Linked DNA regions of Homo sapiens. The protein of the gene in region 2 purifies or fractionates together with the protein of the main gene of each other region. This does not show direct contact. Each region holds a gene or a part of one and is shown on either strand. Other genes may lie near its edges. The genes, in order: RMND5A, SPON1, MKLN1 and GID4.

Evidence for each region.
Region 1: the proteins of SPON1 (region 2) and RMND5A purify together in Homo sapiens (affinity purification with mass spectrometry; one large-scale study listed by BioGRID and IntAct). This does not show direct contact.
Region 3: the proteins of SPON1 (region 2) and MKLN1 purify together in Homo sapiens (affinity purification with mass spectrometry; one large-scale study listed by BioGRID and IntAct). This does not show direct contact.
Region 4: the proteins of SPON1 (region 2) and GID4 purify together in Homo sapiens (affinity purification with mass spectrometry; one large-scale study listed by BioGRID and IntAct). This does not show direct contact.

The regions. Positions count from the first base shown.
Region 1 is NC_000002.12:86,767,871-86,772,290, reverse strand, and holds part of RMND5A (E3 ubiquitin-protein transferase RMND5A), read right to left. Parts: intron 2,269-4,420; coding exon 2,166-2,268; intron 734-2,165; coding exon 579-733; intron 1-578.
Region 2 is NC_000011.10:13,968,537-13,972,956, reverse strand, and holds part of SPON1 (spondin-1 precursor), read right to left. Parts: intron 1-4,420. UniProt on the Homo sapiens protein: Cell adhesion protein that promotes the attachment of spinal cord and sensory neuron cells and the outgrowth of neurites in vitro. May contribute to the growth and guidance of axons in both the spinal cord and the PNS.
Region 3 is NC_000007.14:131,396,743-131,401,162, reverse strand, and holds part of MKLN1 (muskelin), read right to left. Parts: intron 3,897-4,420; coding exon 3,787-3,896; intron 1,926-3,786; exon of another isoform or gene 1,923-1,925; coding exon 1,730-1,922; intron 1-1,729. UniProt on the Homo sapiens protein: Component of the CTLH E3 ubiquitin-protein ligase complex that selectively accepts ubiquitin from UBE2H and mediates ubiquitination and subsequent proteasomal degradation of the transcription factor HBP1.
Region 4 is NC_000017.11:18,045,491-18,049,910, reverse strand, and holds part of GID4 (glucose-induced degradation protein 4 homolog), read right to left. Parts: intron 1-4,420.

The DNA.
Region 1 (4,420 bases), on a different chromosome or scaffold from region 2:
TTTTTAGTAGAGATGGGATTTCACCGTGTTAGCCAGGATGGTCTCAATCTCCTGACCTCGTGATCCGCCTGCCTCGGCCTCCCACAGTGCTGGGATTACAGGCATAAGCCACCACACCTGGCCTTCACTTAGCACTGTTTAGAGAAACAAATGTTCATCAATAGGGAACTGGCTACCCAATCATATTTCTATACAGTAGAATATACTGCAGCTTTAACAAAAAAATAATGAGGGCTGTTTCTGCAGCACAGAAAAAGATCTCCAAAATACATCACTAAGTGAAAACAGCAAAGTACAGAACATTTTTTAGTATGCGACCATTTGTATAAAAAAGGGGAAAATCTATCACCTACCCCAAAAGTTAAGTTAAAGACATGCTTATAAATCTAATCACCAAATCCATAGACACATTAAAAATACTCAAATCAGATACCACCAACTTTGCCAAATGAATAGTTAAGAAATTTATTTAGTTCTAAATCTAGCTACATTTTTTTAATCCTCATCACTTCTTATCCTCCTACCAAGTTCCAAAACAAAATTTATTTGCTAACATTTTTTAAAAGTCAGACACTTACTTGCTACCATTAAACATTTTATTCAGGGCATCTCTTGATATAATATGACCACAGACCAATTTCATGGGTGGATTGTTATCTGTTGTTTGCTGACGAAGAATGGGGCAGGCAAATATAGAGTGATACCAGCACTTTTTACCAAGGTCCACTTCAATCTGTTAAAAAAAAAAAAAAAAGTAAAAAAGCTGAAGTCATATTTCACAAAACCATCCACATGGTAATATACACTGTGCAGCAAAGAACATTGATCAGATCTATTCACCTGAATGTAACTTTCTATAGCACTCTTCTAACTCAGATGGACAGTCTTAGTGATTCAAAGTGTTAAATTAGCCTTCAAGATTATTTTCAAGAAAGCTGACAAAGTGTAAAAACAAGTCTGACAAACAATGACCTGATCACCACCTCTAATGGCTTTACTGGCTTGACACACAGTCTTTAGGTGAATTCAGATTTCAGTCTGCTCTTAGTGCATGTCAGAGATGCTTACAACATAAATGGGAAACTGCCAGATGCCAGGCACCTGCCTCCACAAAACAAGTGAAGGCTCAAGTTCTTTTCACTTGTTCAAGTTAGCGGCAGTAGAGCAGGAGTGCTACTTGTGTCCTGACCACACTCAGGACCAGGACTGCACCTGTGCCTTTAATCAGAAAAGATCTTTGAGGAGAAGCTGGGGCAACCAACTGACAGGGTTACCTGCTGGAAGAACAAGGTAACTGCAAATAAACCCGTGTACAGGTGTGGTATAAAACGGGCAAAAAAACAAATGCGTATGTTAGCTTTTCAGGGTCTGTGACACAATCATGACAGGAACGACAATTCCAGGCCAGAGCCTCAGTGCCTGTCAGAGACCTGGTGGAAACATACATACAATGACCTTCGCCACTTCACATCATAACTGCACCATGGCAGCCACAATTTGAGTGCCTACCATGTATCCCGTCTTATTCTAAGCATGCTTATGTTATCTCTAGCCTTCAGCAGCCCCATAAAGAGAAAGCTGGTGCTTGTCTTAGAGATGAATACACTACTGCTTAGAGAAGTTCTAGAGTTGGCAAGTGATCGTGCTGATGTTTAAAACCATGGTCCTTTCCATGAGAGCAGTAGAAATACAGTACTAGAGACCCACTGATGACTGCAGGTGTTACGACCTTTAAGAGCTCTATACTTATTCTATTGGCAAATGTAACCAGCACAAACTCGTGATCTTATCGACAGCAATAGTTAAGACAAAAGTAAAACCAATTAAATTTGCGTTTATATTAGAAAAACAATCACAGGAGTGGTCTGTGAACTGCACTGCAGAACACACTGCCTGCTACTGTATGTACAGCCCTCCCCACTTCTGATGTTTCCCTTCACCAGCTTTCAAAGGCACTTCAAGTCAAAATTATAATACTCCTCCTCCAGGGTCCCCAAAATGTACTAGGCTCTTCATTTGTATTGTTTAATCTTTTATATATCCATAAAAGAACTCCTGTCAAATGGCTACAATGTTTCCTGGTTAAAAGGTAAGATGAACATTTAAAGATGCCATATTCTTCTAATGGCAGTAAAAGTAAATAGCCAATAGAAAATGGAACTCACAGGTAATTCATCTTTCTGGTTCCAAACTCCAGTACACTGCCTCTGTTCAATCACGGCTTTGATGTTAATTAAAGCTGGCAGCGCCACACAACCTGCTGAGAAACTGGGAGAGCAGAAGAGGAAACGTCAGTGCCAGGCCAGGGGTCAGGCCGCTTGGTCCAAGGAGACATCAATTTCTCCAGACTCTATGTGCTGCAGACCCTGGCCACTGGACAGGGTGAGAGCTTTCTGTTCTGCTAAAAGTAAATCCAGCCATTTCCACTAGAAGAGAAATAACTTGTTTTCCCTCCCCTTCTTCCCCAGGCCCACTGGTATATTTCCTGAAGTTACTGAAAACCAATCCCAGTTAAAAAACAAAACAAAAAATAAAACTCTAAATTTTCTAAATAAACCTCACCAATATGGGGGTAAATGCAGTTAAAGAACGCAAACGTTAAAAAAAAAAAACTCATCTGCTAGGGTAATTTAACTTTAGCTTACTTCCTCAGAAAATAGAAAAATAAAGTTTTAAAACATGCATTTTAAAAAAGAAAGCAGCTTTGGAGAACCAATTAATTCAAATGAAGAGCAGGAATTAAGAACTACTACACTCTTCCAAATACAGTAGTTTTAGCATCTGAGTTTGAAGGAAAAAGAGATGTTCTTGCACAAAATTCTTCACTCAGCAATATACAAGACATAACTTCCTTTCCTATTCCCTTCCTTACAGACCATATACCACCAGACTTATTTTTCTTACAAAATGTGCTCCAAGGTATACGCTAATTAGAACAATGATACTCAAAATGTGGTCTGCAGATGGTGCTGATTTACACACCATTTTCAATCCACAGGAAAGAAGTACAGAATTGAGAATAAGGTTTTTAGAGAATTTAATAACAGCAGATGGTGGTGGCTCACTCCTGTAATTGCAGCACTTTGGGAGGCCAAGGTGGGAGGATTACCTAAGTTTGAGAGTTTGAGACCAGCCTGGGAAACACAGTGAGACCCCCGTCTCTACAAAAGATATAAAAATTAGCCATTAGCCAGGTATGGTAGCATGTGCCTAGAGTCCCAGCTACTGAGCAGGCTGAGGTGGGAGGATGCCAGGAGGTTGAGGCTGCAGTGAGCCACGATCGTGCCACTGCACTCCAACCTGGGCAACAGAATGAGACCCTGTTTCAAAAAGTAAAATATAAAGAATTTCATAATAATCTTACATTAGTGCCAAAAAAGGTTTTATATTGCACAAAACAACTGGATTTAATGGGCTCAGCTTATCAGTCAAATGACATGCTTGCTCCTGAAACATTTTTTTTGCATAGTTCCTCTTATCCCCAGATCACCCCTGTCCAGGGTGGAAGCACTCATTTCTCAGATCTGGAAGTGTTGGCAGCCAACTCTCAGCTGTGTCCGTCTCTTCAGGACTGTCCTCAGTTGAAGAGAGTCATCTGACCAGAGTCACATCCAGCAATTGCTCCATGTGAGGGTACAAAACCCCAGCCCTATAGGCCCAATTTGGGACAACTCCACGGGCCCACAGCAGCTCCAGAGCTCCTCACGGATGGGAGACACCTTGTTGCCACTCTAATACAGTCCAACTTTCCTCTCTGCCCAATCCTGCTGTTTTCATTCTCCCACAGGTGCTGATGTCAGTAAACTTTCTGCATGTACATTCCCACTTTAGAGTCTTCCTCAGAGAACTTGATGGCATCAGCGCCTCACATTATAGCTAATTGCATCTGTCCACTCCTACGCTAGGATGGAGCACCCTGTGGAATGCACCTTATTCATCTTCATATCCAACACAGTGCCCACAGTGCCTGGCACATAGCAGGTATGCAAAACATTTGTGGAATTAAATGAATAGAAGAGCTAAAAAAGAGTTATTTTCTTACAACAGTTTCTTAAAATGTTTTGGTTTCAGGACCCCTTTATATGCTTAAGTATTAAGGATCTCAAAGAGCTTTTCTTTTTGTGGATTATATCTTTAATACATTAGAAATTAAAATGAGAAACATAAAAGGTGCCGATTAGTTCATGTAAAAATAAAATACCATGCCATTATTGCAAACATTCTTATAAAAAAATAACTACAGTTTCCAAAACAAAAATATATGTGTGAGAAGAGTGGCACTGTTCCAAACTCTCACAACTCTCCTGAATGCCTACCTTAACAGAAAGACAGCTGGATTCTTATAGTTTACTCTGCATTAAATCTATTGTGATACGTTCTTCTGGTTGAGGTAAATGAAAAAAAACCTTGTTTCACACAT
Region 2 (4,420 bases):
AGAGAGAGAGAGAGAGATGGAATGACCCCATTTGAGTCACTAGACCCATTTATGCCTGAAGCAAGAGCCACCCCTGGGCTTTGCAAATATGGGAATCAGTGCATTCCCTTTTCTGCTTTAGTTAGGTTGACTTTGTTCCTATCACTTGCAGTGGAAAGAGTCCTGACTAATTTTGAAGCAAAGAAAGAAAACACTCTGCCTAAACTACAAGAATCACCAGCAGGCTCAGGAAACAGTATTCAGAACTAAACTGAGGTGGCTTATGCTGGGGGTGGCAGTTGGTATGTAAATGTCATTGGGATGACAGCAGATCTCTTGACTTCAAAACTATTTAGCTAAATATCAGCTTTAGAGAAAGACTCTAAGGAATGTCAGAGGGCTCTATCCTAGACTCTGAGTTGCTCAATATTCTTATCAACTTCATTGATAAAGACTTACAAGACCTTCTTATCAACACTGTGCATAATCCAAAATTAGATTATGTGAATAAATCACTCAGGGACCAAATACAGATTCATGAATGGCTGACAGCTACAGGGATGGATCCAAACATGCTGGATTAAATCTAACGATAAACCATGTCAAATTTTATGTTCAAGGACCATTTTCACCAGTCTAGGTTAAAGAGGGAAGCAGGCCTTCCAGAAAATTGCAAGAATTTGAGTTGGCTGCAAGCTCAGTGTGATTCCAGACTACGGCACAGCTGCCAAAATAGCAAACACAAGACCTGGCAAGCTTCACACAACCACAATGTCCAGGACAAGGAGATAATCATTCTATCATGTCCTGCCCCTAACAGACCACATCTGGGGCACAAAGTACAAGGGAGCAAGCAACTGCAACCCACAAAGAATGGTTAAAGAAATGGGGCATTTTAGTCAGAAGAGAAGCCATGACAGCTATTTATTCACAAACATCTCAAGGGCTGACATATGGCCCAGGGGAGACCTTATTTTCCTTGATTCCAAAGGACAGAACCTTGGACAGATGTGTGAAAGTTACATGGTAGGCAGACTTTGGTGGCAGAGAAGTACAAGCAAGTCAGCCCTGGCTCAAGCTTCGCCAGTCTGTGATTGTGGCCACCTAAGGAAAACTCATGGTTCTCTTCTCCCCATCACCCTACTGCCAAGCGGGAAATGTTGCAGTCATGTTGGCTTTGAGGATATTCCACTGGTCACTAAATGAGTGTGTCCCATAGTAACAGGATAGGGCAATGATGTGACCAGGTGCTAAAGTGTGTGGGAGGCTGGGGCTGGGGCTAGGAGAGGTGGTGATGGGGAAGCATGCTCATAGGAAAAGGGCCACCTTTTCTTTGTGTCTCATCATTTTCCTTTAAAAGAGTGAAAAAAGAAAGAAGAATATAAGATTCCTGGAATCCAGCCTTTTGTTAGGGTGGGGCCCAGGAAGTTTTTTTATTAAATTAAATTTTAGTTTAGTTTTTACACTCTCCAAAGGCATAGCTAGGTTTGGAAAGTACTACAAATGACTCCACAATGTGCTGGTTCTAGGGAATGTCACTTTAATAATTGATGTCTAGGTTTGATGGCTCAATAATCCCCTCAGGCCTACTTCTCCAGATACTCAGAGCCAGTTTCTCAGAGCCAGTTTCTGAGGTTGGCAGCCCCTTGCCTCTGCCCTTTTGCCTGCTGTTGCTCTGCTTTTCATGCCACAGCAGCAGCGTTTCAGCTTCCACCATGATGCAACTGCTCTCTCTTCCCTCCCAGTGGTCTGCACTCTGGACACAGGCCATCTGCCCTCAGCCTCTGGCCAACGCCCCTGTGGCACTGGCATCCTTTCTCTCTGCTGCCACCACCTGGAGCTCCTTGCCTCCTGTCTGCCATCCCTTGGGTGCTCACCTTTCTCTCTGGCTGAGAGAGAAATACCTTCCCCTTCCTCCATCCAGCTCTCTTAGAGAGCTCACACCAGGGTTCTTGGGGCTTCAATGATACTTTATTTTTTTCAACAAATAATGATTTAATGCCTGCTATGCCCAGGCACTGTTCTGGGAATTGAAGATAAAATGGCAAATAAGAAAGACAAAGTCTTTGCTCTCATAAAGCTTGTATTCTAGCTGTAGGAGGCAGACAATAAACGAGAGAATTTCAGAGAGTGTTTAAGGCTATGAAGAAAACAAAATCAGGCGAAAGTGACGGGAAACATAAATTGGTAGTGAGAGCAGCCTCTTTAAAGAGATTCCCTTAAAAGACAAGGAGTCAGCCATGCAAAGATCTGAGGACAACCATCCCAGGCATGAAGAGCAAGGATGAAGGCCCTGGGGAGCGAATGAGCTTAGTGTATTTGGAAAATTCAAAGGATAGTGTTGGCAGGAGTTGGGGGGAGGACAAGGAGGAGGAGGAGGAAGAGGAGGAGAAAAGAGCTTCCTGTAGCACCTAGAATCACCATTTGGTTCATCCTGCTGTGACTGTGCCCACCTGCCCACACTCCTGCCCCACAGATGGTGACTTGTTCTTGGAACTCTTCCCTGTTTCTCTCACCCAGTCCATGAGACATATTGGCAAATATCTCAACCACAACTGTAGAGAGGGTTCAAGTTATTTCCTATGGGTCTCCTAGCCTCAAGAAAATCAGTGGATGTGGGTAGGTCCCTTAAGTTTTCCTGAACATTTCATGGAATTTATGAATATTCTGCGAAAGGTAGAAGCCTGCTCTACATAGACCTCACAAAGGACTTCTAGTGGTCTCACTTAACTCCTTGCCCTGTCCTATCTGCACCCCAACTCCATCCCTGCCAAAACATTCTGTAAAAGTGGGGCATTTTATACCAGCAGGAGCTGACAAGCATCACAAAAAGCTTTTTATGTGATATAGCAAGCTTCCTGACACCATAGATGCTCCAAGAGAGGTGCATTTGGTAAAAATCAAACACAACTGCACACTATTGGAGGAGAAAAAACAGAGAATGTAATGCTTTAAATGATTTGGGCCACTTGCTACTCCATTCAATGCATGCATGTGCCTGAGTGAGCATGAGATGAGCCTCTCAGCTCCCTTACTCCATCACATGATGAAGATTTTGTACTTGCATGTCAGAGCAAACCAAGGGTTTATCTGCTACTCAACTGAGGAAACATTGCTCTCTTCCAATGCTGGAGGGAAACTAGAAGGGCTAGACTTATTGATACATGCCAATTCGTTTCTATTCCTCACTTACAGGAATATTGGGGGTAGGGTGTTTAGATAAGGCTAGGTTGAAGCTGGTATCTGGGTTATATCTTACGTATAATTTCAAAGGACTAATTTTGACTTATGTGATGTTTGCTTTCCATGGCTCTTCTTGTATCTAGCCCTGTAGTCCCATCCTAATGGGACTCTGCCATACTCAAATATTTTCTTTCATTTTCATTCTGAATGTATACCCCAGTGGGTTTTCATTTTTCTTTTTCTCTTCCCACACCACCCCTTTGTTTTCTTGATTTACCTTACCCTCATTCCTTTCATTCTTTGCTGCTTCCTCTTTTATTGAGAAAGGAGAATGAGACAAAACAAGCCACAACATAAGCTTGCACATACACACCCCAGCACTCCTGCCTCTGCTCTTTTTCCCTTCTTTTGAGACAGGGTCTCACTTTGTCGCCCAGGCTGGGTGCACTGGCACAATCTTCACTCACTGCAGCCTCAACTTCTCCAGCTCAAGAGATCCTCCTGCCTCAGCCTCCTGAGTAGCTGGGTCTACAGGTATGAGACACCACAGCCAGCTAATTTTTTTTTTTTTTTTTTTTTGTAGAGATGGGTTTTGCCATATTGTCCAGGCTGATTTTGAACTCCTGGGGTTAAGCAATCCACCTGTCTCAGCCTCCCAAAGTGTTGAGGTTACAGGTGTGAGCCACTGCATCTGGCTTCCTCTGCTGATTCTTAGCAGGAACATCAGTTTATATGTTGTCAAGTTGACCCACCTAGCTGACCTTTCACTGAGAAAGTAAGATATATTGTGTTTTTACATGACTATGCATGAAAATATGTGACAGAGACCGTTAATATGATCCTTAGAAATTTACTTTGTTTCATCTTTTTGAAAAATAAATTCTTCAAGTTTTAGCTGGGCATGTGGCTACCCAGCTAAATGCTATATTTCCCAGCCTTCCTTGCAGCTAGGTATGACCACATGACTGAATTTTTGCCAACGGAGTGTGTTTAGAAGTGCTGGGTGCAGTTTCTGGGTCACATTATTAAAAGAAAACTGAAGTCCTCTACTTCCTCTCCCCCCAGTCCACTGCATGCTGACTGAATACAGGTGTGCAGAGGTTCTCCTCGGCTGTAACGGTGCTGAGGAGAACAGCAACTTAAAACAGTGCTGTTTAGTAGAAATAAGCTCAAGCTGGGTGAAATTAATTTTGTTACCAGGTATCCATTAACATAAGTGAAAATAGGCAAAATTAGTTTTAACTAGTGTATTTTACTT
Region 3 (4,420 bases), on a different chromosome or scaffold from region 2:
TTGTATCCTCCATTACAAGAAGCTTGACAGAGACTCTTTTGATTCCCTAGATCTTCCTATTTAGCAGGCAGGAACTTCTTGTCCTTCTCTGCTATGTTTTTAATAGAGCAGAAGCCAAAAAACTCTGCACTGTTTACTTCCTTATTTGTCCAACAAATCATCATCAATGAGATCAGAAGCAAAGAGAACAACCCTGAAAGGAATGTTTATTAACTAACAGTGTTCCAGGCCAGTTTAGAAAGCCCATAGTATTCACAGTACAAAAACTATGATGTGGCTGTAAGTTTCAAGAATTGAGCAACTACTAATTTCTCTAAACTTGGTTCCTTTCTAGAGCCAAAGGATAAGTTAAGTCTCTGTAGATATCAAAACTGCACAAGATTTTTATCAGCTAATCTTAACCAACTGAGTACGTCACTAAAGAGACCTTTAAAATATAACTGTTTTTAGCTTATTAACTGTAGAGTTGCCTGTGGCTGTTGTTTTGCTTTCCCTTCACAAAATGGTATCAAATGCCTTACTGATAAATATCTGAAACAAACAAAAAAGCCCTAAAATTACCTATGCCTCCCTCATCTTATGAGGTTAAAAAAAACCCACAGAATTCACTCCTAGAAATGGCATATATATATATATATATATATTTTTTTTTTATTGGTAGCATTTTAAAGTCTGTTAAGAGATTAGTTATTTGTTTGTTTATACTCCAAAATATACTCAATTTCAAACATACCTATCATTTATTTGCAAGTATCATCATCAATCAAGTAAGCAATAACAATGCACAAGGCTTAGAAGCAGATTTGTCATATTTCAAAAAGTGGAGCTCAAAGCAATTCATTTTAAGTTAACTTTAAATTTATAAACTCAAGGCAGTACAAGTCTGGTTTTTTTTTAGCTACCCAATATCTGATAAATATGAATACCTAATAATAGACGATAATAACAGTGATAAAATTAAAATGAGAGCAAACCACTGAATAATCTATTATTTCTTATTTCTTCCTATAAAGGATGCACCAAATTCAATTCCACAAGTTTTATATTGTGCAACTATTCTGTTGTTTGTCACTATGAAAGTTACTGAGGAAGATTAAAAAAAAAAGTCATACTATAAGCAACAACAGAGTCCCTTTTTAGTTTAAATAACAAAACACATCAGACCTTAAAAATCCAAATGAGTGTTACCCTCCAAAGCCAATACCCTGGGAGATAATACAGATGTTCAACTATTCACATTTCTTTCAAAGCCAGACTACAGGTCACACAAGAAAATCAGCAATTATATAGCATTCACACCACAAGGAAGTTGTTTTCAATACAAATCTCCTTGTTCCTTATATATAATTGTTTACTAATAACATTTTTTATTATCTAGCCCCCCTTCTCCTCAAAACTACACTGTTAATGAATATTGGCTACCAATATCAAAATATTATTTCTGATACAGTTTAATGCTAGTTAATCATTTGTAAGTGCATGGTTTCCCAAGATGACAACTTAAATTTATATGTGAGTTCAAGTACATTTCAATTTTTTAAGTCTCATTACATCATGGATCTATTTTACATGAAAGAAGTCCCTAATCCAAAGAGATAACAATCTTTAACCGAGTAAAAAACCAAGAAAAAAAATTACAGTAATAACTGGCATAAGCCTATATTATTTTTGAGAAAAAGTTTCCCGTATGTACTTGAATTTACCCTAATAACCAATCTAAGTTTCATACCATTTACAGCCTTTTCAATCAACTCTTCGCAAGCATCAAAATCACCCTTCAACACCAGCTTGTCATGAATATCTGTTAACATGGGATGTTCCAGTGCAATCTTGGTTTTCTTTTGCAGTGACTCAAAAGCTTCTGTATAGTTGTGTTGTCTGAAGTGTTTTAGGCAAAGGCGAATAGCTTCCTGTTCACGGTACTACTAGAACACAGAGTAAGTATGGAAAGAAGAGATTTGGTTAGATGATACTGTAGGAAACAATAACAACAGTAAAAATAACTAATCTACACTGAGCATTTATTAACACTATGTGCCAAGCAGTTTACTAACCTGATTCATTAGGTATCATTATTTGGCTCTTTTAACTAGCAAAACTAAAGCTTGGCCTGTTCCAATAACTTGCTCAAGGTCACAAAATATGTAGCCAAAAGTTATTAAACCAAACCTAATTCCAGAGCCTCAACTTTGAAGAAAGGGAGAACATCTATTTCTTAAACTCCACTTAATACTGTAAAAATTATAACTCCATAGCATCTATTAATCCCATTACAATGCAGGTACTGAGAGCACAAAAGAACATTAAATAATCCACATAAATTATATTATGCTATTTTTGGTTTTTAAAAATAAACTATTACTTGAATGACAAGTATCAAGTATACAGATATTTCAAATTTACAAACACATTTTATGACTCAAAAATCATCAAAAAGAGACATTTAATCTTTTTTTTTTTCTTTCTTTTTTTGAGACAGGGTCTTGCTCTGTCTCCCAGGCTGGACTGTAGCGGCATAATCTCAGCTCACTGCAACCTCCGCCTCCCAGGTTCAAGCAATTCTGCCTCAGCCTCCTAAGTAGCTGAGCTTACAGGCACGCGCTACCACGCCCAGCTAATTTTTGTATTTTTAGTAGAGTCGGGGTTTCACCATGTTGGTCAGGATGGTCTTGAACTCCTGACCTCAGGCAATCTGCCCACTTTGGTCTCCCAAAGTGCTGGGATTACAGGTGTGAGCCACTGCGCCCGGCCCAATTTAATTGTTTTCTAAGCCTGAACTACCTCATCTATTAAGCAGCTATAAAGTAGACATCTCAATTAACTGGAATCCAAAAAGCAGGCACTTAATTTATTAAAATTTTCCCCTAATAGGATAGATGCCAAAAATACAATCTTATAAAAAGGATTTTTTTAAAAAAATCTCAACTTCAGGAATATGTTCTGGGACTACCTCAAACTTCCTAAGTATACCACTATTCAAACAAACAGATGACATGGAAGCCTGCATGATAATCAAACAACAATGATTTACTTATAGGCATGACCCTTTAATAAGGCAAGAAAATAATGTGTTTAGGAAGATGTATAAGATTTGAAACAAATCAGTTGATAGCTGACTTAACTAATAAAAGGTCATTAAACACCTAATCCTTACACGTTATAATTAACTATAATTAATTAACAACTTAATTATAATTAGTTAACTATAATTAACTTACTCTTGGCCTCTAAAAAAGACTTATCATAACTACCATGTAACAATATATATTACAGTTATATTAAACAGCAGTATTTTTTAACCCTGTTGACTACTTTAGGAGTCTAAATCACATCCACATCTTAAATTTTCCATTAGGCTGCAAAACTATCCCACTAAAAACTATGTTTTAAGTATTTATATGAATACAAGTGAAAAAACAAAATTCAGAGTCAAATGGGTATAATAACATAAAAGCAGACTGTGGAGCCAAACTGCCTGAATTCATATACTGGCTCAAACACTTTACAATTGTGTGATCCTAGGCAAACTATTTAATCTCTCTGTTCTTCATTTCTTCATCTATAAACTAATGGGGATAATAAGTGCACCTGTCTCATAGAGTGATAATGACTAAGTGAGTTATCAGGATTCCTTAAAAGCTGGCAGACTGGAAGTGCTTAATAAAATGTTAGCTAACTGTTGTTATTATTATTTTGAATATTTTAAATTATTCTCAATGAAGATAAGAGATTGACATATTTCTCCTTTTATAGGCATTAAAGTCAGGATTTAAAACACAGTCCTACCTTGCTATACCAGTTGAGACAAGGTTGTACTATATCAGGATCATCAATGCCACTAAGTTCAACATACCAGATGCTAAAGTTAAAGCTGGGTCCCCAGGACAAGAGTGGAACTTTAAGGAGAAAAAACAAAAAGAAGAAGAAAAATATTAACACAGTTCAAATAAAACTTTAGCAAAGTAAAAGCACTATTCAACCTTATAAGGATTCATTCAACGAATTTTCTGGGCATCTTTTATATGACTAGCATGGTGCTAAGGCTACAACAGTAAAACGAAACAGATGACCCATGCCACCATAAGATTTCCTTAGTTAATAAAAACACTGTAAGATAAATTAAAAATGTGCACATGTCTACCCCCAAATAAATGCCACCAGAATTAGATGATTTAACAGGTAAATTTTATCAAATGTACAAGCAGCAAAAAATTACTTTAGAATTTAGTCTACATCAGAACACTGAAAGAGACTGAAATTATTTATCAGTGGCACAACCCTGAAATCCAAATCAGAAGAAAAAAGACTTAAGGCCAATCACAGCTATGAATACATATTTAAATACAAATTAAAAGGAGAAAAGTTGCAAAAAATTCTATCAGATTTTCATTGTAACCAAACAGATCTCATTCCAGGAATG
Region 4 (4,420 bases), on a different chromosome or scaffold from region 2:
AGCCTGTAATCCCAGCACTTTGGGAGGCTGAGGCAGGCAAATCACCTGAGGTCAAGAGTTCAAGACCAGCCTAGCCAACATGGTGAAACCCCATCTCTACCAAAAGTACAAAAAAAAATTTAGCCTGGTGTGGTGGTACATGCTACCTGGGAAGCTGAGCAGGAGAACTGCTTGAACCTGGGAGGCAGAGGTTGCAGTGAGCAGATATTGCACCACTGCACTCAAGCCTGGGCAACAGAGCGAGACTTCATCTCAAAAAAAAAAAGAAGGGAAGAACAGACAATGGGGCCTACTTGAGGGTAGAGGGTAGGAGAAGGGAGAGGAGCAGAAGAAATAACTATTCAGTACTAGGCTTAATACCTGGGTGACAAAATAATCTCCACAACAGTTACATAGGTAAACCGTGACATAAGTTTATCTATAGATCAAACCTGCGCATGTACACCCAAGCCTAAAATAAAAATTAAAACAAACAAACAAAAAAGCTGTGCTTGTTTGTGAATGTGAGGTAGCTAAGAGGCCATTTAGCTCCTTTTTTTTTTTTTTGACACTTATCTCCTTTTTTTTTTTTTTTTGACACGAAGTCTCACTCTGTTGCCGAGGTTGGAGTCCAGTGGCATGATCTGAACTCACCACAAACTCTGCCTCCTGGGTTCAAGCGATTCTCTTGCCTCAGCCTCCTGAGTAGCTGGGATTACAGGTGCCCGCCACCATGTCCAGCTAATTTTTGTATTTTTAGTAGAGATGGGGTTTCACCATGTTGTCCAAGCTGGTCTCAAACTCCTGACCTCAGGCGATCCAGCTGCCTCAGCCTCCCAAAGTGCTGGGATTACAGGCATGAGCCACTGTGCCTGGCCTATCTCCATTTTAGTAGATACTTTTCCATACTGTATACGTGAGGAAGGCAACTACTATGACTAAAACCCAAATTATAGTTTAATTAAAATAAATTAAAAATTTGATATTTTTGCCAGGCACGGTGGCTCATGCTTGTAGTCCCAGCACTTTGGGAGGCCAAGGTGGGTGGTTCATCTGAGGTCAGGAGTTCAAGACCAGCCTGGCCAACATGGTAAAACCCCATTTCTACTAAAAATATAAAAATTAGCCAGGTGTGGTGGCACATGCCTGTAATTCCAGCTACTCGGGAGGCTGAGGCATGGGAATTGCTTGAACCTGGGAGGTGGAAGTTGCAGTGAGCTGAGATCACACAACTGCACTCCAGCCCGGGTGACAGAGCAAGACTCTTCCTCAAAAACAAAAAATAAAAATAAAAAATTGATATTTTAACAAACATAAATGGAAAAGAAAAAAAACCCAAATACAGGTACAAAATTTATTCAAAGATTCATTGTAGTTTTCTGCATTTTACTATTATCTACGGCAACCATATACTAGACTTATAATTTTAAAAGTTATCAGGCTGGGTGCGTTGGCTCACGCCTGTAATCCCAACACTTTGGGAGGCCAAGGAGGGTGGACATTTGAGGTCAGGAGTTCGAGACCAGTCTGGCCAACATGGCGAAACCCTGTCTCTACTAAAAATAAAAGTTAGTTGGGCAGGGTGGCGCACGCCTGTAATCCCAGCTACTCGGGAGGCTGAGGCAGGAGAATCGCTTGAACTTGGGAGGCAGAGGTTGTGGTAAGGTGAGATCACACCACTGCACTCCAGCCTGGGTGACTGAGACTCTGTCTCAAAAAAAAAAAGTTATCGGCCAGGCGTGGTGGCTCACACATGTAATCCCAGCGCTATGGGAGGCCGAGACAGGCGGATCATGAGGTCAGGAGATCGAGACCATCCTGGCTAACACGGTGAAACCCCATCTCTACTAAAAATACAAAAAAATTAGCCGGGTGTGGTGGCGGGCACCTGTAGTCCCAGCTACTCGGGAGGCTGAGGCAGGAGAATGGCGTGAACCCAGGAGGCGGAGCTTGCAGTGAGCCGAGATTGCACCACTGCACTCCAGCCTGGGTGACTGAGCGAGACTCCATCTCAAAAAAAAAAAAAAGTTATCACATAGTTGCACAACTTTGTGAATACACTAAAAACCAATGAACTGTATACTTCAAATGGGTGAAATGTATGGTATGTGAATTATCTCAATAAAGCTACTAAAAAACATTATTTAAAAAGAATTCTTCTACATCTAAGGCCTGAGCAGGACTTGCTTTAACGCAACACCCCTGCAGCAGCATAACGTGGTCTATTTATTGCTGGACCAGGAACAGGCAACTCTGGGGAGGGTATGTGCTCATCGAGGCCACGCCATCTGCAGAGGTTCTGTTAAGAGCCTAGGGCTCCCCTTGGGTTAGCCCCCATTGAAGGGCCATTGTCAGTGCCCCCTCCTCAAAGGAGCCTGACTGCTGCTCTCGACTCACGGGGGCTTCCTAAAGGAAGGGCTACTTGTTCCCGATGGAGAGCTCAATGCCATTAGCATTTCTGTATACTTCTTCAAGATTTCGAATGCTACTTACCATTTCTGTGCAGCTTGTTATCACCCAAATGACTGGTTTTGGAGTCAGCGTTAACATTCCAATGCCTTACACACTTGCTGGTTTCCTTATGAAATTCAGTGTTTATGTTCTGCACCCAGTTAACTAATGTATTTGGCTACCTGAGAGTTGAGCATATTCTGTTTTAGTATCTTTTCTCCTACCACAAACCCAAAGGCTGGAATCCTGTATTTTGCTATCACTTCTACTCCTACTTGATTTGATACAATTCTCGAGTTAAAGAAGAAATACCTTTGGTCTCAACAACAAACTTCATAGGAGATCCTTAATCAGTTAAGCTTCTAATAGAAAAGCAGATAGGAACCAGGAGCCAGAAACTTGTCTTAAGACTGAGGCTCATCAGGACTTTACAAGAGAATCACATATTAGTACCATATTTGAGTCTGTCATTTTCTCTAACATTCTTTCCTTACCCCCAGAACAAGTCCACTGATTGTCTTAGACAGAGCAGGGATTTTTTTTTTTTTTTTTTTTTTTGAGACAAAGTTTCGCTCTTGTTGCTCAGGCTGGAGCGCAATGGTGCAATCTTGGCTCACTGCAACCTCCGCCTCCCGGGTTCAAGCGATCCTCCTGCCTCAGCCTCCTGAGTAGCTGGAATTACAGGTGCCTGCCAACATGCCCAGCTAATTTTTATATTTTTAGTAAAGATGGGGTTTCACCATGTTGACCAGGCTGGTCTTGAACTCCTGACCTCAGGTGATCCATCCACCTCAGCCTCCCAAAGTGCTGGGATTACAGGTGTGAGCCACCACGCCCGACCCCAATTTTTTTTTTTTTTAAAGAGAGAGGATCTTCCTAGGTTGCCCAGGCTGGAGTGCAGTGGCTATTCACAGGCATGATCACAGCACATTGCTGCCTTCAAATCCTAGCCTCAAGCGATACTCCAGCCTCAGTCTTCTGAGTAGCTAGGACTACAGGCACACAACACCATGCCTGGCTAATTTATTAAAAATTATTTGTAGCGACAAGGTCTTGCTATGCTGTCCAGGCTGGTCTTGAATTCCTGGCCCCAAGTGATCCTCCTGCTTTGACCTCCCAAAATGTTGGGATTACAGGTGTGAGCCACAGCACCCAGCCTGGAGCAGGAATTTTTAATTCTCAACTTCGCAGATGAGGACACTGAAAGAAGTTAAAGGTCACAGATGCAGGAAGGGGCAGAAGAAGAATGCCACCCCAGCTCCTTTCCACTGCCCCATCCAGCACAGCACTCTGTCCAAATACTGCTGGATCATCAGACCATGAGAGCTGACAAAGGCCAGAGGCCCCCTGCAGCTAGGTCCAGCCTGGGCATTCCCAGCATTCGGAGGGCCAGTCCAGCTACCTCCTTCCACTTCCTGTTTCCTTGCTAATGGAAAAGAAAGGATGCTCCTCCTTGCTTTCTAAAGTCCCAGGAGTTCTGAGGTTTAAAAACTTGGTTCAAAGAAAATAAAATACTCTGCACAGCAGGTACTTCTGCTGGAAACTAGATGGTCACTTCCCCTTTTTTTTCTTTCTTTTTTTTTTTTTTTGAGACAGGGTCTTGCTCTGTTGCCCAGGTTGGAGTGCATGGTGATCTTGGCTCACTGCAACCTCTGCCTCTCTGGTTCAAGTGATTCTCTGTGCCTCAGACTCCCAAGTACCTGGAACTACAGGTCTGTGCCACCATGCCCGGCTAATTTTTTTTTTTTATGTTTAGTAGAGATGGGGTTTCACCATGTTGGCCAGGCTGGTCTCCCTACCTCAAGTGATCTGCACACCTCAGGCTCCCAAAGTGTTGCGATTACAGGCATGAGCCACCGCGACCAGTCAGTAACTTTTCATTGTTCCAATTAACTAAGAGGCTTAAAGAACTTAAAAGCTCATTTTTTATAGGACTGATGCTTATCTCAGAAACTGTTAAACTTATGATGAGGGTGGCAGCTATATTCTT